Regions from separate parts of the Homo sapiens genome. Here regions 2 and 3 are each reported to be linked to region 1. The links are microRNA targets in miRTarBase. Many come from high-throughput screens and were not tested one by one. Region 1 holds a microRNA gene; each other region holds the end of a gene's coding sequence.

Region 1 (7,000 bases):
CACGGTGAAACCCCATCTGTACCAAAAAAATAGAAAAAAATTAGCCGGGCATGGTGGCAGGCGCCTGTAGTCCCAGCTACCCAGGAGGCTGAGGCCAGAGAATGGCATGAACCCGGGAGGCGGAGCTTGCAGTGAGCTGAGATCGCGCCACTGCACTCCAGCCTGGGTGACAGAGCGAGATTCGGTCTCAAAAAAACAAAACAACAAAACTAAAACAGGCCGGGCGTGGTGGCTCACGGATGTAATCCCCACACTTAGGGAGGCTGAGGGGGGCAGATCACCTGAGGTTAGGAGTTTGAGACCACCTGGCCAACATGGTGAAACCCTGTCTCTACAAAAAATACAAAGTTAGCCAGGCGTGGTGGTGCATGCCTGTAATCCCATTTCTCTACTTGGGAGGCTGAGGCAGGAGAATTGCTTGAACCTAGGAGTCGGAGGTTGCAGTGAGCTGAGATTGCGCCACTGCAGTCCAGCCTGGGCAACAAGAGCGAAACTCAGTTCAAAAAAAAACACACAAACAAACAAACAAACAAAAAAACACCAAAGAGGGAAAAAGGTGTTTTATTTGTTTTGTTTTGAGACGGAGTCTCGCTCTGTCGCCCAGGCTGGAGTGCACTGGCAACATCTAGGATCACTGCAAGCTCCGCCTCCCAGTTCACGCCATTCTCCTGCCTCAGCCTCCCGAGTACTGGGACTACAGGCGCCCGCCACCATGCCCGGCTAATTTTTTGTATTTTTAGTAGAGACGGGGTTTCACCGTGTTAGCCAGGATGGTCTCGATCTCCTGACCTCGTGATCCGCCTGCCTTGGCCTCCCAATGTGCTGGGATTACAGGCGTGAGCCACCACACCCAGCCGAAAAAGGTGTTTTTTTAACCTTTGGGAGCCATCGACTCTTTGAGCATCTGCTCATCTGTGACCTGTGCAAATGCCATTTGTAGATGCGTCCAGAGTGCCCTCCCCACCATCTGCAAGCACCCTAGGGTGGTGGTGGCCCTACGGTCTCATCCAAAGCCATACATCCAAGACCAAGTGCTCTGGGCCCCCAGCCTCGTCCCCCTGCCCACAGTCACTCTGCACTGGCCTCATGCACTGTGTCCCTCCACAGCCCTTAACTGCACCCGCCCCACCTCTGAGGCCGATGTCACTGCTAGAGAAACCCTCCTCGGGTGCCCTGCCTGGAGCTGCTGCCCTGCAGTGGATCAGGCTGTGTGACCTGCAGCCTGCGGAAAGCCAAGGGGGCAGTTAGACCCCACCCTGCTCTGCCAATTTGAGCTCCGGGTCACAGACTCTGGCTCTGGCAGCACCCTCTGGGGTGCCCCATTGTGGCCCTAAGGCCTCCTATCTGTTTCCTCCTGAACTGACAGCTCTGAGACGGCCGAGTGGGGTCTGCCCTGGTTACCCCTGAGTCCCCAGCTCCCAGCACAGGGCCTGGTGATATATCCATGGCAAGGCACCCCATTTCCCTCACTTCTGTCCCCAGCCACCACCCAGCCCACTCACCTCTCCCACTCCTCCTCGGCCTCCTCGGCAGTGAGCGTGCGATGCCGGGCCAGCGGTGTGAAATTGTACCAGTTGTGCACGGGGAAGGCCTCGAAGGCCCCGTCGGGGCACTGGGTGAAGATGTAGTAGGACGTGTTCTCTGTTACGCCTCCCTTCTTGATGCCCTTGAACCTGCAGGGAGCCACGGTCATGGCCTGGCCCATAGGGACCAGCCCCAGCCCCCCCGTGTCCCCCCGGGGCCTGCCTCCTTTATGGCACTTGCCATAGGAGGAAGACCAAGAAATGCCCATGAGGCCTGGGCAGGCCCTTCAACCACCTGGGCCTCGTCAATTTCCACATCTGGGGAACAGGGCCGGCGCACCTACCCTGCAAAGTGCTGGGCGTGTGCACATCGGGATCATTTCTGGAAAGACTGTGTGAGATTATCTCAGGAGAGCCCAACCCTGCAGTCAAACTGTCTACATTTGCCTCCAGCTCTGCTATCTGTGGGCCACACCCGGGAAACTGAGGAGCCAAGTGAGAAGATGGGGCGGGAAGGCATGGCCAAATTTTTTTTTTTGAGATGGAGTCTCGCTCTGGCACCCAGGCTGGAGTGCAGTGGCACCATCTCAGCTCACTGCAACCTCCACCTCCCGGGTTCAAGCAATTCTCATGCCTCAGCCTCCCGAGTAGCTGGGATTACAGGTGTCTGCCACCACACCCAGCTAATTTTTGTAGTTTTAGTAGAGACAGGGTTTCACCATGTTGGCCAGGCTAGTTTCGAACCCCTGACCCCACGTAATCCGCCCGCCTCTGCCTCCCAAAGGGCTAGGATTACAGGCGTGAGCCACCGCGCCCAGCCATGGCATGGCCAAATCTGAAGTGGACACCTGGCCCGGGCCACCATTTCCTCAAGCCTAAACAACTGCCCAGCCTCCTTGAGGCCTCTACCTCATTCTTTTCTACCCCAAAGTTCCGGACAGTCTGGGTGAGTGCCTCTTCCCTGCCTACAGCTTTCCAAGGCTCCGCTGGACCCAGCACATCCTGGCACCCACTGCCCTGTGTGAGCTGCCTGTGTCTGTCACTATCACCCAACTGCTGTGCCTGGAGCACCCTTCATCAACCTAACCTGGACCCCTCCTGTTCTGCCCTCAGTCTGCCCCCTCTGAGAGGTCATCTCAAGTGTCATGAGCTCCCAGGGCTGGCCACCTAAGCTTCCTGCATTGTGGCACTCAGAGCTGCCTCAGAGCCAGGCACAAGCACCAACTCAGTGAACTGTCTTCAAAAACACAACCCCAGGGCCTGGGCAGTGGCTCATACCTATAATCCCAGCACTTTGGGAGACCAAGGTAGGAGGATCACTTGACCCCAGGAGTTCAAGACCAGCTTGAGCAACGCAGCAAGACCCCATCTCTACCAAAAATACAAAAATTAGCCAGGCATGGTGGGGCGTGCCTATAGTCCCAGCTACTCAGGATGCTGAGGTGGGAAGATCTCGAGCCCAGGAGTTGGAGCCTGCAGTGAGCTACGATCGCACCACTGCACTCCAGCCTGGGCAACGGAGTGAGACCCTGTCTCAAAATAAATAAGTAGGCTGGGCACGGTGGCTCACGCCTGTAATCCCAGCACTACGGGAGGCCGAGGCGGGAGGATCGCCAAGTTCGAGACCAGCCTGACCAATATGGTGAAACCCTGTCTCTACTAAAAATACAAAAATTAGCTGGGCGTGGTGGTGGCAGGCACCTGTAATCCCAGCTACTCAGGAGGCTCAGGCAGGAGAATAACTTGAACCTGGGAGGTGTGGGTTGCAGTGAGCCAAGATCGTGCTACTGCACTCCAGCCTGGGCGACAGAGCAAGACTCTGTCTCAAAAAAATACAAGTAAGTAAAATAAGATAACATAAATAAATAAATAAATAAATAAATAATAAAATCCTACAGGGATGGAAGTGCCAGCACTTCCACTGCAGCAGTGGGAATCTGAGGTTCAGAGAGGGTACCCCACAAAGTATGTAAGTTGAGGCCTGGGGATGTGGACTGGTCACTAAGCCGGCACCGCCACCGCCCCACCACTTACTTCCTGCCTGATTTGCCGTTGACCCGGAGCAGCCAGGGCTGGTCCTCGGGCCGGAACTCCTTGAGGACGATGCCGTACTTCTTCCTCCGAGCCTCCTCCCGAAGCTTGCGGTTGAACTCACTGCCCGCGCCCGATTCGGGCATCTCCTCCTCTTGGTAGATTTTCTTGTTGCTCAAGTCCCGCTCCAGCCGAGCCTAGGGGAGCAGGAAGCAAAGCCTCTCAGGGTCCCTGGCTTTGCTTGCGCAGTGCCCCCCTCCAGGAACGCCCTTCCTTGCCCTAGGCCAAGCTCTAGATTCTCAAAACCAACTTACCACTTGGCAACAAGGGAGGAGAACGGTAGCCTTTGACAAATCTGGGTAAAGGGAATTTGGGCGAGCCTTGCGCTCTATTTTTGCAACTTAAAAGCTTGAAATTATTTCCAAATTAAAATTAAAGAGAAAAAGACCACCTGGTGACCATCAAGCAGGCCATCGGAGGCAAAATTCCTTATCTGAGGAATGTAGAAGTAATTAATTAGACTTCCCTATTATCTACAGCAGGCATCTGGTTCCAGGATTCTTTTCAAAAAATGTCTAAGTACCTAGAATTTCCACACATCTCTCCAGAATGCATGCATATCGAAACTCATTGTGCTGTGGCTCACACCTGTAATCCCAGAACTTTGGGAGGCCAAGGCAGAAGGATCACTTGAGCTCAGGAGTTTAAGACCAGCCTGGCATCAGAATGGCTTGAACCTGGGAGGCGGAGGTTGCAGTGAGCCGAGATCATGCCACTGCACTCCAGCCTGGGTGATAGAGTGACACTCTGTCTTAAGAAAAAAAAGGCCAGGCGCGGTGGCTCACGCCTGTAATCCCAGCACTTCGGGAGGCCAAGGCAGGTGGATCACGAGGTCAGGAGATTGAGACCATCCTGGCTAACACGGTGAAACCCCGTCTCTACTAAAAATACAAAAAATAAGCCGGGCATGATGGCAGGCGCCTATAATCCCAGCTACTTGGGAGGCTGAGGCAGGAGAATGGCGTGAACCCGGGAGGCGGAGCTTGCAGTGAGCCGAGATCCTGGCGCTGCACTCCAGTCTGGGCGACAAAGCAAGACTCAGTCCCCAAAAAAAAAAAAAAAAAAAAAAAAGACCAGCCTGGGCAACATAGTGAGATCCTATATCTATTTCCTAAAAATAAAAAGGCTGGGCATGGTGGAAGGCTGAGGCGGGTGGATCACTTGAGGTCAGGAGTTCAAGACCAGCCTGACCAACATGGCGAAACTTCGTCTCTACTAAAAATACAAAAATTAGCTAGGCGTGGTGGTGGGCGCCTGTAATCCCAGCTACTTGGGAGGCTGAGGCAGGAGAATGGCTTGAACCTGGGAGGTGGAGGTTGCAGTGAGCCCAGGTCGCGCCACTGCACTCCAGCCTGGATGACAAGAGACTCCATCACAAAAAAATAAAATAAAATAAATAAAAAGAAACTCATTGTGCAACACTTGCTGACATTAAGGCACCAAAATCTCTACAAATTAACAATTTATCGTGACCTACATGGCTAATGTGATCCGAATTACCCTTAAGCTCTTGATTTAAGGTCCATATATACCATTTCCAAAACACTCTAGAATCAGCCACATCTCATAACCTCCACTGCCTCCAGTGCCCTGCCAGGACTCACCTAGACCAGTCCAGTTGCTTCTACCTTGGTCTCCGTTTATTTGCCCTCAAACCCACAGTTTGTCTCCCCATAGCAGCCAGATCACACACACTACAACTTCCCAATTGAAGATGCTTTAATGGCTCCCAAAGTCCTTTCTAGAGCCTCTGATGGCAGGGGCTCTGGGAAAGCCCCCAGCCCAGTCCCCTCCCTTGCCCAGATAAACCATGGCCAAAAATGTCCAACAGTGGGCACAGCTTCTAAATGTTCTCCTTTAAGGAGAGGCCTCTGGTGGGCCTACCAAACCTAACTTACAGGGACACCCAGGAGCTAGGCCTGGGCCTTTGCCATTTCCGTTTTTTTTTTTTTTTTTTTTTTTTTTTTTTTGAGGCAGGGTCTTGCTCTGTTATCCAGGCTGGAGTGCAGTCGTACAATCATAGCTCACTGCAGCCTTGAACCCCTGGGCTCAAGCGATCCTCCTACCTCAGCCTCCTATGTAGGACTACAGACCCACGCTATCAGCCCCAACTAACTTTTTAATTTTTTTGTAGAGTTGGGGTCTTGCTATTGTATTGCCCAGGCTGGTCTCAAACTCCTGGCCTTAAGCAAGCTTCCTGCCTCAGCCTCCCAAAGTGCTGGGATTACAGGTGTGAACTACTGCACCCAACCCTTTGTCATCTATCTTTTCTTCACTTGGAGAAAAGTGAGAAAATTAAGACTTAGTGACTATGACAGTTAAGCAACTATCACAACCACCAAGGTCAGGGTCAAGTTCTCTCACCACCCCAGCCCCTGACCCCCAGGACTCAGAGACTTACCTGATTCCACGTAGCAAAGTTGACTTTGTCGGCTGCATTAAAAGCCATGATGTTATATTTTTTGGTTGTATTCCTGGAGTGGATGAGAAGAGGTAGTGTCAATCCAATACAGCAATTCAATCATTAATTTAATCAGTCAATGCTATTGAACCATTAATTCAATCAACCACCCAACTGGATCGTTAATTCAATCAAATCATTACTTTAATTCAATCACTCAATTCAATTGAACCATTAATTCAATTCAATCATTCCATTCAATTGAATCATTAATTCAATTCAATTCACTCAACAAACCCACCCAGCTTCATTCAGCCTGTTTTGCCTGGCAACACTGGATACGGAAGACTCCAAGGATTCCCAGTCTGCCAGAGAAGCTAGACCCATCCTCTCCTGACCCCAGGCAGAAGAAGAGCAGATGGAGGGACGAAGATTTGGGGGAACCCAAGATGTGGAGATTATTGTGAACTCAGCCTTGGGGAGGAGGGAGGACAGGCAGGGAGTATTTCCTGGAGGAGGAAGATACTGGAGTTGAGTTTTGCAGAATCATCAAGAATTCACCCAGCAGAGTCACAGTTTAGGGGTTGAGGGGAGGCACTCATGGCAGAGGAACAGGATGTACAAAGGCCTGGAAAGGAAAGACAGCCTGACCACTTTGAAACAGGACGAGGAATATGTCCTTACAGCTGGCCTGGGCATCATGGGACCATATACTCCTCGAAGGTTAGGCCAGGGGGCTGGATCACCGTGTATTAATGCACTCATTCATTCATTCGTTCAAAAAAGCAGTGTTGTCCCCAGAGAAGCCTCAGCTTAATCCCAGCCCTGCCCTCCAAGTCTCTCCCGGTCTGGAGGGAGAACCACAGACAGGGCCAGAAATGGCTGGCTAAGAAGATCGTGAAGGTTTTCATTTTTGGGGGGTGGAGAGGAGTGGGAGATGGGGCTGGGGACTTACTTAGGAACTCGAACGACGTATTCAGTGACA
Region 2 (7,000 bases), not on the chromosome of region 1:
TCCTGCATAAAAGTAAGTATGTCGCCCAGGTGCGGTGGCTCATGCCTATAATCCCAGCACTTTGGGAGCCCGAGGTGGGCAAATCACTTGAGATCAGGAGTTTGAAACCAGCCTGGTCAACGTGGTGCAACCCTGTCTCTACTAAAAATACAAAAAAAAATTAGACAGGCGTGGTGGTGGATGCCTGTAATCCCAGCTACTTGGGAAGCTGAGGCAGGAGAATGGCTTGAGCCCGGGAGATGGAGATTGCAGTGAGATGAGATTGCGCCACTGCACTCCAGCCTGGGTGACAGAGCAAGGCTATGTCTCAAAAGAGAAAAAAAAAGTAAGTATCTCAGTCTTGAAGATGATGAAATGGAGGCCTAGAGAGATTAAGTAACTTGCCCAAAATGACAGAACTAATGCATAGAAAAGAAGAAATGTGATGTCTTTTGGCTCCAAAGACACCCCACATATGCGTTGGTTACAGTTACTAGAGAAAAGTTATTCCACCCCCACCCCACCCCCAGAAATCTTCTGACTTGTTTTCTCGCAGTTGAGTAGGACCATTTATTCGGCAGTGTACCATTCTCAGCTTGCAGTTGAAAGCCAAATATCCATTAAAGAGGCAAGGATGCAAACTTGCTAAGCTGATAAATCCAGGGGTGATTTTTTTTTTTTTTGCAAACCATCCAACAAGACATTTTAAATACTCATTGAATTTCATAGAACTGACTGCCAGGATTGGAAAGACATTAAAGCCAGCTCAGCCACTGCCTCGCTGGTTGGCCAGACCACGCCTGGCACTTCTGGGAGGGAGCACTCACCACCCCCCAAGGGCACCCATCTCATCCTCCGAAGGTTTATGAAAATGCACTCATCATTTGCTAATTCATTCCACTACGTGTATTACCTAATTTGTGACACGATGTGAAGTACCAGAGAGATAATTCTAAATAAAATATAGTTATGGGTCTCAAGGAGCCAGATATGCTAATCTCCTATCCTCCTGCAGTTTACAGTGGTCCTCACCAGATACTTATTTACAAAAATTCAGTTTATTATTTATTTTTTTGAGACAGAGTCTTGCTCTATAGCTCAGGCTAGAGTGTAATGGTGTGATCTCGGCTCACTTCAACCTCTGCCTCCCAGGTTCAAGTGATTCTCCTGCCTCAACCTCCCAAGTAGCTGGGACTACAGGCACCTGCCACCACGGCTAATTTTTGGAGTTTTAGTAGAGACAGGGTTTCACCACGTTGGCCAGGCTGGCCTCGAACTCCTGACCTCAGGTGATCTGCCCACATCAGCCTCCCAAAATGTTGGGATTACAGGCGTGAGCCACCATGCCCGGCCAAAACTTCAGTTTATAACACAATCTTTCACGTGTCTTCTGCTTTCATTAAAAGAATAGACAGTTCCCTTCTTTATTTCAGTTTAATAAACCATGGATTTTATTTCATGCTTTGCAAAACACAAGGGCTCACTGACATGCACTTCTTAAACTAATTCTGGCTGGTCGCCTGTAATTCCAGCACTTTGGGAGGCTGAGGCCGACAGATCACTTCAAGTCAGGAGTTCAAGACCAGCCTGGCCAATATGGTGAAACCACGTCTCTACCAAAAATATAAAAAATTAGCCAGGTGTGGTGGTGCGTGACTATAATCCCAGCTACTCAGGGGCCTGAGGCAGAAAAATCACTTGAACCCGGGAGGCGGAGGTTACAGTGAGCTGAGATCGCGCCACTGCACTCCAGCCTGGGCGACAGAGTGAGACTCTGTCTCAAAAAATAAATAAATACAAATAATGTAAAATACGAAACAAGCAATCCTGGCAGTAGCTGCTGGAATGAGAGGAGGGAGAGGTCATAGGGAGGTCGGGGACAATGGAGCATGGAGTTGTGTTGGATTTGGCTAAGCAGCAGGAAGTGCAAGGCATTCCAAGCAAGAGGAGGGGGGCAGGTGGGGAGCATCTGCAAGAACAGAAGCAGCATGAGCAACCTGGCTCGGCAGTGTGTGAAAAGGCTGAAAGGTGGCTAGAGCCACTTCAATTTCATCCTTCAGGCAAATGGGAAATTCCCAAAGGTTTGAGTGGGGAAGCAATGCCTACAATGAAAGTTTGAGAGTGAAGCAGAGTGATCGAATTAAGCATGTAGGCCGAGTTCTGAAATAACTGCAATGTGCTGAAGATCATCCATTGGCTTCTGAATGAGTATTTGCAGTTTATTTTTTAAAATGATTTTATTGCCAAGAAAGATAAACACTACTGTTTTGGTACAAAAACATAACAAAATGTGTTGAGTCCCTCTTGCTGTTTTACGCGAAGTTTTAAAAATCTACTCTTGTCACAGTGGTATCACCCCTACTTCTGATTTCAAATAAATGTTCTAGAGACACAGTAAGGGCCCAACAAACGCTTGTTCAACAACACAAGGAGAGCCAGCTTTTAAAGTAGGAAAACAGGCCGGGCGCCGTGGCTCACACCTGTAATCCCAACACTTTGGGAGGCTGAGGTGGGCAGATCACTTGAGGTCAGGAGTTCAAGAACAGCTTGGCCAACATGGTGAAACCCTGTCTCTACTAAAAACACAAACATTAGCCAGGCGTGGTGGTGCACACCAGTAGTCCCAGCTATTCAGGAGGCTGAGGCAGGAAAATGGCTTGAACTGGGGAGGCAGTGGTTGCAGTGAGCCGAGATCGTGCCACTGCACTCCAGCCTGGGGGACAGAGGGAGACTCCATCTCAAAATAAAACAAAACAAAACCAAATCATACAAAAACATTAGCTGGGTGTGGTGGTGCATACCTGTAATCCCAGCTACTTGGGAAGCTGAGGCAGAATTACTTGAACCCCTGGGGGGAGGTTGCAGTGAGCTGAGATCTTGCCACTACACTCCAGCCTGGGCAACAGAGTGAGGAGACTCTGTCTCAAAAAATATATATATTAAAAAAAAGAAAAAAAAAAGTAAACTAGGAAAACACATCAGCAGCCTGCCAACAGACTCCCCTAGCCTCGGTGAGGGCCAGTGTTCTGGGAGGCAGATCTGAATTCTAGTCCTAGTTCACCCACTGGCAGGCTGGTGCCCTTGGGCAGGTCGCTTCTCTGGGGCTCAGTTTCTTCCTCTATAAAATGAGATCAAATCCCATGTTCTAAGAGTTTGTGCTCTGGAGTCAGACAGATCTGGGTTCTACCACTGCCAGCTCTGTGATCTTGTAGCTTCAGTCTCGTCATCTGACATGGAGATAACAGTAACTGTCTCACTGTGTTGTTAGGGTTTAAAGGAGATAATGTATGTGAAATGTTAGCAAACAAGTGTTAGCTACCCTGATTTCCGGTTTCAGAGTTCTGTGGTCCCAGTTTATGCCACATGCAGTGACGTTGTATGGTAGGCTGTGGTGTGGCACCACTTCAGAACTCAGCGCATGCACAGCTTGCAGAAGAGAAGGCCAGAGGAGACCTAAGAAGGCTCTTCGAACACTTGAAAGACCGGCATGTAGGCCGGGCGCAGTGACTCACGCCTGTAATCCCAGCAGTTTTGGAGGTCGAGGCGGGTGGATCACCTGAGTTTGGGAGTTTGATACCAGCCTGACCAACAAGGTGAAACCCCGTCTCTACTAAAAAATACAAACATTAGCTGGGCATGGTGGCGGGTGCCTGTAATCCCAGCTACTCCGGTGGTTGAGGCAGAATTGCTTGAACCCGGGAGGCAGAGGTTGCAGTGAGCTGAGATTGCATCACTGCACTCCAGCCTGAGACAAGAGCGAAACTCCATCTCAAACAAAACAAACAACCAACCAAACAAAACCAAAAAAAAAACTGGCATGTAGAAGAAAAATACTTTTTCTCTACACTTCTCCAAAGAATTTAACTAGGCCCAGGGGAGGTGCAGTATAAATTTCTAACAATCTCAACTGTCTGCCAAATGGAATGAGCTACTTCATATGGCAGTAGTGAGTCCTCTGTCTTTGGAGGCATTCAAATAAAAGCCAGATGGCCATTTATCAACAATCCATGTAAAACGTTAGATGAAATAAAACCTATATATCCAAGATCTCTTCCAATTCAGATTTTATGAAAGAATTTCTAAGGTCTTTGTAATGAGACATTTAGGCTGTTTCAAGAGATCAAGCCAAAATCAGTATGTGGGTTCATCTGCAATAAAAATGTTTGTTTTGCTTTTACAGTTTCCTCATTTGGCTGTTGGATTTTAAGCAAAAGCATCCAAGAAAAACAAGGCCTGTTCAAAAACAAGACAACTTCCTCTCACTGTTGCCTGCATTTGTACGTGAGAAACGCTCATGACAGCAAAGTCTCCTTATGTATAATGAAACAAGGTCAGAGACAGATTTGATATTAAAAAATTAAAGACTAAAAACTTAGTTTAAGAGTCAATTTAATAAGTTTAAAATAAATGTTTAGTTTCATTAGGATGATGCTATCAATATTTTCTTGGTTACAGACACATTATTAAAGTTTTGGGTTAATTTTATTGACAATTCTTAAGATTCTTTCTCATGCTTAATAAAGCATGCTACTCAGTTAACTCTTGTCTACATCAGCAAAGCAGATAATACAAAACAGGAAAATTACAAATCACTGATACTTAGTCCTTGTGGGAATCATGCTTTTCTCCCAGCAGTTTTACAAGGTGGCTGGCATTCCCTGAGCATATTCTGAATTGCACTGTGGGGAAAGAGGTTGTGCTCAGTTGTAGGGTGGGGGGATGCACTGCCTGAGGATTAAAAAACTAGTTCTGTGACCGTGAGGAAGTCGTTTAAATTTCCATGGTCTGTTCCCTCCTATGTGAAAAGAGAAGGTGGGCTTCAACCTCTAAGATCTTCTCCAGTTTTCACATTTTATGGACTTTTGTAGAAAAAACATCAGGAGTTCATGTGGGATGACAGCAAGTCATTTCTTTGAGGAGAGTCTTGATCACCAGGCAATATTCACAGTGTAGAGACTGTCAGATGACCATGGCTAGCATGGAAATGAGACCCACACATTTAAATCACCCAGCAAATATTCCGAAGGCTAATTGTAGCACATTTTATGAAAGACATTTCAAACTGTGGTCCTGAAGAGTGTATCCCATCTTGCAGAGGTGGGGAGCCTGGGGGGACAAGAGTTCTGAAGAGGAAGAGACAACAAGAGTTCCCAGTAGCTAATGTTTGTCATTCTAGTTGACCGTGCTGGTCTATTAGGCTAGTGGTTCAGTACACAGATGAAATGCAACATGGAACCCAGTTTATTATCAGAACAACTACAAAGAAATTGTCCCCTGTCTAAGACTGGAGTGTCAAGTCTCTGCCCTTTTTTCCTTTCCTTCAATGGTGGATGTGGAGTGACTGTGCATCCCACCAGAACCACGTGTCATGGCTGAGTCACATCTTCCTGCCCTTGGAATGAGAGGCACAGCGGAAGACCTTCCCATGGAAGGGACACAGGGAGCCTGGTGGCTGGACCATGGTGCTTCTCTCTTCCAACACGTCCACTCACCCCTTGGGAGACCCTCAAAAGCCAGTTACATTACATGTTCACAGAATTTTTGGTAAAAGTAAATACCAATTATAGTGAGGAAGAATTTTGACCACGGAATATTTTAAAAACTAAAAAATGTTTATATTTCATTTAACATTTGACACAGAAGAGACCACATTTGAATAAACACATTAAATCTTCAGAGCACTTTCATTGTGGTTTTGGACCTCAGATATGACAAATACTTACATTGACAAATCCATAATTTCTTTTGTAATTTCTTTTTATTTTTACAAATTATACCATGATAAAATTTGACAAAAATTATTCATGTGAAAGTTTCCTCTAACATTTTATAAGTTAATCAAGTGCATACCACAATAGATTTTTGGTTGTTGTTTAGGTGTTCTCGTGATTTTAGTATTACACAACTTTAAGCTGAGACTACACTCAGAAATAAGTTTAGAAAATGGCATTACAAAAGGTTGGGAGTGAGCAGTAAAAAAACAAACAAACCCATGCAGGGCTGTTGTGCTGTGGGAAATCAGATGTGTTCACTGCCATAAGTCTTCAGTGCGGCCAAACTTAAAAACCAGCCCTCTGTGAATAAAACAAGAAATATCACATGACTCCCTGAATTTGAGAAAAGAGTATGTGAGATTTCGAGAATGGTGTGAAACAAACAACGAAGAATAATTGATGAGTTGTAGAAGAAATTTTGGTACGAAATGTATCAAAACAGAAACTGATCATTCTAAGGTAGTGAATTCTTCCATTATGTTCAACTGTGCTATTAACCACCATATTCCCAACAACCTTAACTTTCAAGTACTGAATACACATGTGACTTTTAAAAAGTTACCAGTGTTTACTATGTAACCATTATATGTCTGATTTTTTTTTTTTTTTTTGAGACAGAGTCTTGCTCTGTCGCCCAGGCTGGAGTGCAGTGGCGTGATCTCGGCTCACTGCAAGCTCTGCCTCCCGGGTTCATGCCATTCTCCTGCCTCTGCCTCCTGAGTAGCTGGGACTACAGGCACCCGCCACCATACCCGGCTAATTTTTTGTATTTTTAGTAGAGATGGGGTTTCACCATGGTAGCCAAGATGGTCTCGATCTCCTGACCTCGTGATCCGCCTACCTCGGCCTCCCAAAGTGCTGGGATTACAGGCGTGAGCCACTGTGCCCAGCCCTATACGTCTGATTTTATCAAATTCATTCAACAAACTGTTTTGGTGCCAGGGCTATAAATAAGATACAAAGCCACTGCCCTCAAATTGCTCTCATTCTTGCTAACGTGATGTGGTAAGTGTGGGGGTGGTTGGGGAAGGAGACTTATATAACAAGTATTAAGGGGGCACAGAAACACAGAATTCGGTCACCCTGAATAAGTTAGAAAAGGATTTACAGAGGTGGTAATATGTGAGATGGGCTTTTGTGGAAAAACAGGGGTTTGAATGGGAGATTGGTAGGAACAAGACCTAGCGGGATGATGAAGGCAGGTGTTTCGGGGACAGGAAACAGTACATCAAAGGGGAAAGAGGCAT
Region 3 (7,000 bases), not on the chromosome of region 1:
GACTCTCCATGGATGTGCGAGCTCTAAGCAGAGACCTTCCACACACACAACCGGCAGACAAGGGTTTCTCTCCTCTGCCTCCCTCACCTTGCTCGTGGCTCCACTGGGATGAGGACAAAATGACTCCATCAAGATCGTGGCTTTGCAATTCCCCAGGAGATGAGAGATGACCCCGGGAAGCAGAGCAGAATTTCACCAGCAGGCTCCTCGGTGCCTAGTGCTGTGCCACTGACAAGTCCTTGGTCATCCTGGAAGGGGCCCCCAATTTCTGCCCTCCCTAAAAGGACTCGGTAGCCCCTCACCTCCAAAACAGCCGTGTTCTTTTAAGGCTCTGTTGAAATACATCCGTTGTCCAAATATGAGCAGTGCTCAAAAACCCAGAGAACTTTCCAAACGCAGGAATTAGAAGTAGCCTTGTGTCAAAAGAACTCCATTCCGGCCAACCTAGGAGGTCTCCCGTATTCGGGGAAGAAGACCGGAGTCAAAGGACTCATCTGTCCTGTGCCAGGGACTGCTGTGAAAGCCCCTCAGAGACCTCCAGGGCCACAGCAGCCCCACCCAGCCCCGCAGTCAGCCTCGGAGACAGCCTGGTTCCCTGTGGCTGACCGCAGGGTGTTCTCAGAGAACCCTGGCTGGACCGCTGCAAAGACCCTGGGGACACTCAGCAGCCCCTGGTGAGTCCCTCTCGACCGAGAGCATCTTGCAGAACAAGCCGTCTGTTTTCACGGCCGTTTCCAGGGGGAGCCCTGCCCACCGCCGTTCATCCTACCCCACTGGACAGGGCATTTACTTCTGAAGCTCCCCGTGGTGAAAAGACAGACCCCCTCCAGGGATTCCAGCCGATTCCCACGCAGGAGTTGGACTCGTGCATGGCTGTGGTGGCGTAGAGCAGGCTGGCAGGGGCAGGCCACGCCGTGTCCCCAGTGCCATGGTCAGTTTCAGCCAGTTATGGCCTTAAGGGAATTTGCACCAAATCTTCCAGTTTCCAAGATAAGTCGGAAGTGAGGCTTTTCCCATAAACTCTCCTGATTTTTTTTCTTGAGACGGAGTTTCGCTCGTTGCCCAGGCTGGAGTGTAGTGGTGCCATCTCGGTTCACCGCAACCTCTGCCTCCTGGGTTCAAGCGATTCTCCTGCCTCAGCCTCCTGAGTAGCTGGGATTACAGGCATGCACCACCACACCCAGCTAAGTTTTTGTATTTAGCAGAGATGGAGTTTCACCATGTTGGTAGGGCTGCTCTTGATCCCCTGACCTCAGGTGATCCACCCACCTCGGCCTCCCAAAGGGCTGGGATTACAGGTGTGAGCCACCGTGTCTGGCCTCCGGTTGGTTTTGCTTTCGATTTTCCAGGCTTAGAGAAGTCATGGGAGGCTCCAGGTTCTTTGTGTCACATTCAAGGTCTGGGGCATGTGGTGATTTCGTAGGCCCACCTCTGGCTCCCCTAGAGTTAGTCCTAGCCCACGTGCACAGCCCCCTTCTTTTTGTAAGATGCCCCTGCGACCAAGGGCTCCAAGCACACCTGGTAGGGCCTCTGCATCTGCCGGAAAACACCTGCACTGCCAGCCCCAGCCCCAGCCCTGCCCTCCCCAAGGCTCCCAGACTGCTCCCACTGGGAGTGGTTCCCACCTGGCCTGGGGCACTTATTAAAAATCAGATCTGGGGCTGGGTGAGGTGGTTCACGCCTGTAATCCCAGCACTTTTGGAGGCCAAGCCAAGAGGATCACTTGAGGCCAGGAGTTCAAGGGCAGCCTGGGCAACATAGCAAGACCTCATCTCTACAAGAAAATTTAAAAAAAATTAGCCAGGTGTGGTGGCGTGCACCTGTAGTCCCAGCTACTTGGGAGCCTGAGGTGGGAGGATCACCTGAGCCCAGGATTTCAAGGCTGTAGTGAGCTATGATTGCATCACTGCACTCTAGTCTGGGGAACAGAGCAAGACCCTATCTCTAAAACACAAATCAGATTCTTTGACCCTCCTCCAGAACAACTGCCTCAAGGGAGAGGCCGGGAACGTGGGTGTTCAGCAAGCACCCAGGGGACGCTTGTGCTCTGGAAGTCCGGGGATCGAGTCTGCAGGCTCCCACTCACGATGTGGGGGGCATGACTAGATGGCACGTAAAAATATATGTGAAAGGAGCTATTTTCATTTTTTTCTGTTTTTTTTTTTTTTTCTTTTGAGGTGGAGTCTTGCTTTGTCTCCAGGCTGGAGTGCAGTGGAGCGATCTCTGCTCACTGCAACGTCCACCTCCTGGGTTCAAGCGATTCTCCTGCCTCAGCCTCCCGAGTAGCTGGGACTACAGGCGCCCGCCACCACGCCTAGCTAATTTTTTGTATTTTAGTAGAGACGGCTGTTTCACCATGTTGGCCAGGATGGTCTCGATCTCTTGACCTCATGATCCCCCCGCTGCACCCTCCCAAAGTGCTAGGATTACAGGCGTGAGCCACCTGCCCAGCCTGTTTTATTTTCAATAACAGCCTTGAGGTATAATTGACACACCAGAACGTCCACATTTCTAAAGCATGCCATTGAGTGGCTTTTGGTACAGTCACAGATCAATCACCATCATCTACCCAGGGAGCTTCCACGATTGTACGTCAGGGCCTCGGCCTCGGCCTCGGCCCAGAGAGTCTGATGGCATGAGGCCAACGAACCTGTGGTTTGCCAGTTTTATTTTACCTGCTGTGCAGCCAGGTATGAGAGCCACAGAACTAGCACAGAGGCACTCCACTGGGACCATGGTGGCCTGTAGGAGACATGAGCACTGGCTGCAAACACTTCCGATTGTCCTAATAAGGGGGCTGCCCTTGGATTCAGTGGGGAGGGCTCAGGGATACTGCTCAGCACCACTGCAGGACAATAACACAGCCCTCAATGTCAACAGTGACCACGCTGAAAAAGCCAGCCCTGCAGGAACCTCAAGTCTCTCCCGTCCTTAATGTGACCACTTGAGACCCCCAGGCCCAGCCCACAGTGGCCCCCAGAAACAGAAATGAGGGTGGTGGGACAGTTTCCCCGGTATTAGTGACGATGTAGGGATGAAGTGTAGGGACAATTCCTAAACTTTGATGTCTATCTGGAACCAGGGGCTCCTGTTCAATCAGTTTCTGATTCGGGGAGTCTGGGCTGCAGCCTCACTCTAACAAGCTCCTGGCTGATGCTGGGGTCCGAACCATGCCTTGAATAGTGAGGGTGTGGTTCACTACAGGCCACCCCAGGGCTCATGGTGTTTAATAAATGGAACTCCCCGCGGGGCGCGGTGGCTCACTCCTGTAATCTCAGCACTTTGGGAGGCCAAGGCAGGTGGATCACTTGAGGTCAGCAGTTCAAGACCAGCCTGGCCAACATGGTGAAACCCCGTGTCTACTAAAAATACAAAAACTAGCCAGGCGTGGTGGAGGGTGCCTGCAGTCCCACCTACCAGGGAGGCTGAGCCAAGAGAATCACTTGAACCTGGGGGGCAGAGGTTGCAGTGAGCTGAGATGGCACCACTTCACTCCAGCCTGGGTGACTGAGTAAGACTCCGTCTCAAAAAACAAAAACAAAAACACAGCACTCACGAGCCTCACACTGTGCAGAGTCCTGGACAGCGCTGCCTCATGCATGGCGGGCACGTGCAGCTACCTCAGCATGTGAGGTGGGAGAGTCCAGGGGCACTCACCCCACTTTGCAGATTACCCCAAAACACTTCTCTCTGCAAAGCATTTTTCCCACCACTGGAAGGCGGCTATGGCAGTTTCCTGAGAATTTTTTTTCCATATCAAAGAATCGAGGAGCTGCAAAGTAAAGACTCAGGAGGCCAGATATGTCCCCCCGTCTCCTCCTGCCACGTTCTCTCCCTCCCCTGCTACCCAGGCACCCCAGGCGGATGCAGGGGGCTAGCTGGCTGGCCAGGATCACCCGTCCTGTGGGCTCCGAAAGGCTATTACAAAGGCAGATTCCTGGGAGGGCCCATTCCTGGGAAGCAAGTGCGGCTTGAGCGGAGGTCACAGCAGCCAGTCGCCAGTGCCAAGCAGCCAGTGAGCAGCTGTCCCAGGTGGGCTCTGTCAACACAGCCTCTGCAGGTTCCAACCAGGAGATGAAGCCAGGCACTGGTGTGGCAAGAGCACCGAGGCACGCTTCCTGAGAGGCACAGTCACATCCCTGGGAGCCAGGAAGGGTCAGTGGGGAGTGTCGGACGCCAGGGGAGCACGGGACTTTCAGAAAGAGAAGATGCTCTTCCACCCAGCCGGCAGGGCCTCCGCCAGGGGCTGGTGCTATCTTAGACAGAGTGGGTGTTGCCCTTGAGGAGCTGTGAGCTGAGTCCCGTGGGGGTGTTGCAGAGGCCCCAGTCTCCCTTCTGCCCCAAGTCCAAGCCCACTCTTGGGGAGCTGTGAGGCTGAGGGTGCATTCTCCCAAAGCTGCTCCAGCTCATCCCAGGCAGCCTCGGGTTGCCAGTCTCCTAAGTGACCCAACATCTGTGCCCCCTTTGCTGGCAGCACTCCGCCCCATCCTTGTCCCCTGCCTCGTCCTCTGCCCCTTGCAAGCTTCCCTGGCTCTGTCTGCCCTCTGCCCAGAGGCCCTGCCCTACCCAGTGTGTGCTGGAGGCCGGGCTCAGAGGGTCCAGCCTGTGCCCAGCCACTGGAGCCGAGACCGAGAAAAGTCCTGAGATGAAACCCAGGACAACAGAAGGCAGGTGTGAGCCCTGCGAACTCCTAACTGGGCGCCGGGATCTGTCCAGCCAAGCAGGGGCAGGGGTGGGCCGACAGGATGGGGACCCAGGCCAGGAACTAACTTCACAGGAAAAGCCCTGGGTGGGCAGGAAGATTCCAGAGCACGCTGTGGCTGACAAGGGCTACAGGCAGCAGTGTGGAGCCGGGGAGGCTCGGGGTGGCCCTGTCTTCTGGGCGGCGGCCCCCAGAACCAGCTGGCAGCAAGCCTCGTATACAAGGTAAGACCACAGAGCCTGGCAGTGGTTTGGAATTCGTTCTTCTCTTTTGTTAAAAGGGGGAAAGGAAGTGGATGCGGGTACCCCCAGGTGCAGGGGAGGCATGCAGGCAGCCCCAGCAGGCAGGCGCTGGGAGGCGGTGGGAAGAGTCCTGGAGTTTCCCACAATCCTTTTCTCTGCAAGGAACAGCAACGCTGGCTGACGAGGGGGTGGGGAGGAGGCAGGGCCCTGGGGAGGGGGCGGCGGGCAGGGGGCTGGGGGCTCACACTAACATGCAAAGTCCAGCTGCCCCAGGAACTAGGTTGCTTCTGAAGAGCGACACACGTAGAAATACACAGACACGGCCACGCGCACACATGCGGAGAGGCTCTGCATTCCCTAGGGTGGGGGTCGAGGCCTGCCGGCCCCCAAGGAGCTCCAAGCCAGGGATCAGCAATGTCTCTGCCAGGGTGGTCCTCCACGGCACCCCTGGGCTGGGCTGGGCAGGTGCGTCTTCGAAGGAAGGCTGCGTGGTCTCTGAAGTTCTGTCCGCCAGGCACCCAGGCCGCGCTGAACCACTCCATGTGCCGGGGCCGCTGGGGCCATGACCTTGCGTGTGGGCAGCTGCGTGTTCTGGCACCAGACGTGTCCCTGCCTGGCTAGAGTCCGCGCTCTCCCCTCCAGGGCTCCGGGGAACAAGGGGTGCAGACAGAAAAGGGGTGAAGGGGGCCCGCAGAGACGTCCTCTCCCCCGCCCCACGGGGTCCTGGCCTCCGGGAGGGGGGAGGGGCCTCCCTTATCTCTCTGCCTCCATGGCAGGGTGGGCCCTGGGTTCTGAGGTGGCCTGTTGGGGGGCCAGGGGTGGCCAGTCTGAAGCCGGAGAAGGGGGTGTTGGAGTCCACAGGGGCGGCTGTGGCTGGTGGTGCTGTGGGCCCCCCGGGGGCGAGGCCGCCGTGGGCCAGCTGGAGGCCGCAGAGCTGCTGGTGGCGGCATGGGGGAAGTGTGGCGGGGGTGACGTGGCTGTCGCGGCCATCGGGCTGCCGCTGCCACCGCTGTGGAAGCTCTCGGAGGCCTTGAGACGGGAGAACATGGTGAGAGCGTCAGGGAAGTTGGGGGGTGTAGCAGGGGTATTGGCGGGGGTGCACATCTGTGAGGGGAAGAGAGGAGAGATGGGGTGAGCACCCCTTCCTGGAGGGGCCCCCACTGCCTCCCAAGGGGAGATGCGTGGCTGGCCCATTCTCGGAAGGCTCTGTGTTCCTTCCCCAGATCCCCAAGCCTGTCCGCCGCCCAGGGGTTCCCAGAGGAGAAGCCTTGAGATGAACCGACCCAGCCTCACTCTCAGGAGCCCACGGTGCCTGGGGCCACGAGGCTTTCCCAGCCCACCCCTTTCCATCAGCCACAGCATCCCCGGGGGCTGTAGGGTAAGGAGCTTCATTGCCCCAGAGGCCAGCGCCCCCCAGGTCTCAGGGGGAGCTGGCACAGGCAAGATTAAGTGCAGGACCCACGGAGCCGGGACTCCTGCTGACCCATCTCCAAAGAGGTCGAGCCCCGCCTGCACCAGCGCCCTCGTACACCGGGGCCAGGGGCTGCTTATACACAGAACTAGCTCGGCCTCCTTCCGCCCAATCCAGAACTGGGGACTCCGGGGACACTTACCATCTGGTGGTGATGGTGGCTGTAGGGGATGTTGGTCTCCTGGAAAAAGGCGCTGAGGGCTGTCTGCAGGAAGAAAGGCCCCTGCTCACCCTCCAGGCCCCCGCCGGCCCTGCCGCTGCCCTTGTTCCCAGGCTCCTCTGAGGCTGGGGATGACCCTGGCTGGACTGCTGAGTGGGAGGGGTGAGTCGCGGTGCTGAGGCTCAGTGGCTTGCCTGTCACCCCCAACCCTCACTGCTGTCTAAGGAGGAGCCACGGAACCTTGGGCAGTTGGGGTGGGTGGAGAAGACCCTTCCCCTGCTGCTCGCCACCTGCCTCAGTGCCTAAGGCCTGCAGAGCCCTCCCCCTGCACCAGCTGGCACCAGCACCATGACTGGGGGAGGGCGGGCAGTACACCCCATCCTGGGGGAAAGGCGCCCGGCCCCAGGTAGCCCAACCAGACCTCC

What was found. The annotated mature microRNA hsa-miR-6885-5p reads AGGGGGGCACUGCGCAAGCAAAGCC and lies in region 1 at 3,788-3,812, opposite strand. An mRNA with a match to its seed (bases 2 to 7 or 8) in the 3' UTR can be bound and repressed. Matches are read on the target gene's strand: a 7mer-m8 pairs with bases 2 to 8, a 7mer-A1 pairs with bases 2 to 7 and ends in A, and an 8mer does both.
Region 2: the mRNA of TMEM50A is a reported target of hsa-miR-6885-5p. Seed matches in the 3' UTR shown: 7mer-A1 at 5,087-5,093 and 7mer-A1 at 4,692-4,698.
Region 3: miRTarBase lists UBALD1 as a target of hsa-miR-6885-5p. The part of its 3' UTR that is shown has no 7-base or 8-base seed match.

Annotation. Positions count from the first base shown.
Region 1 is chr19:6,385,887-6,392,886 of GRCh38, forward strand. MIR6885 (microRNA 6885) reads right to left here and starts at 3,817; the gene lies at 3,752-3,817. It overlaps GTF2F1 (general transcription factor IIF subunit 1), which reads right to left. Exons shown (of 13, transcript NM_002096.3): 2 at 6,971-7,000; 3 at 6,016-6,088; 4 at 3,558-3,751; 5 at 1,503-1,673. RefSeq lists an enhancer at 1,146-1,646.
Region 2 is chr1:25,359,713-25,366,712 of GRCh38, reverse strand. TMEM50A (transmembrane protein 50A) reads right to left here. Exons shown (of 7, transcript NM_014313.4): 7 at 4,352-6,053. The coding sequence ends at 6,008. RHCE (Rh blood group CcEe antigens) reads left to right here. Exons shown (of 10, transcript NM_020485.8): 10 at 4,160-4,464. The coding sequence ends at 4,186. Among named protein-coding and RNA genes, the nearest start is that of TMEM50A, 25 kb to the right of the region's middle.
Region 3 is chr16:4,603,936-4,610,935 of GRCh38, forward strand. UBALD1 (UBA like domain containing 1) reads right to left here. Exons shown (of 3, transcript NM_145253.3): 2 at 6,558-6,620; 3 at 4,949-6,048. The coding sequence ends at 5,698. Among named protein-coding and RNA genes, the nearest start is that of UBALD1, 7.5 kb to the right of the region's middle.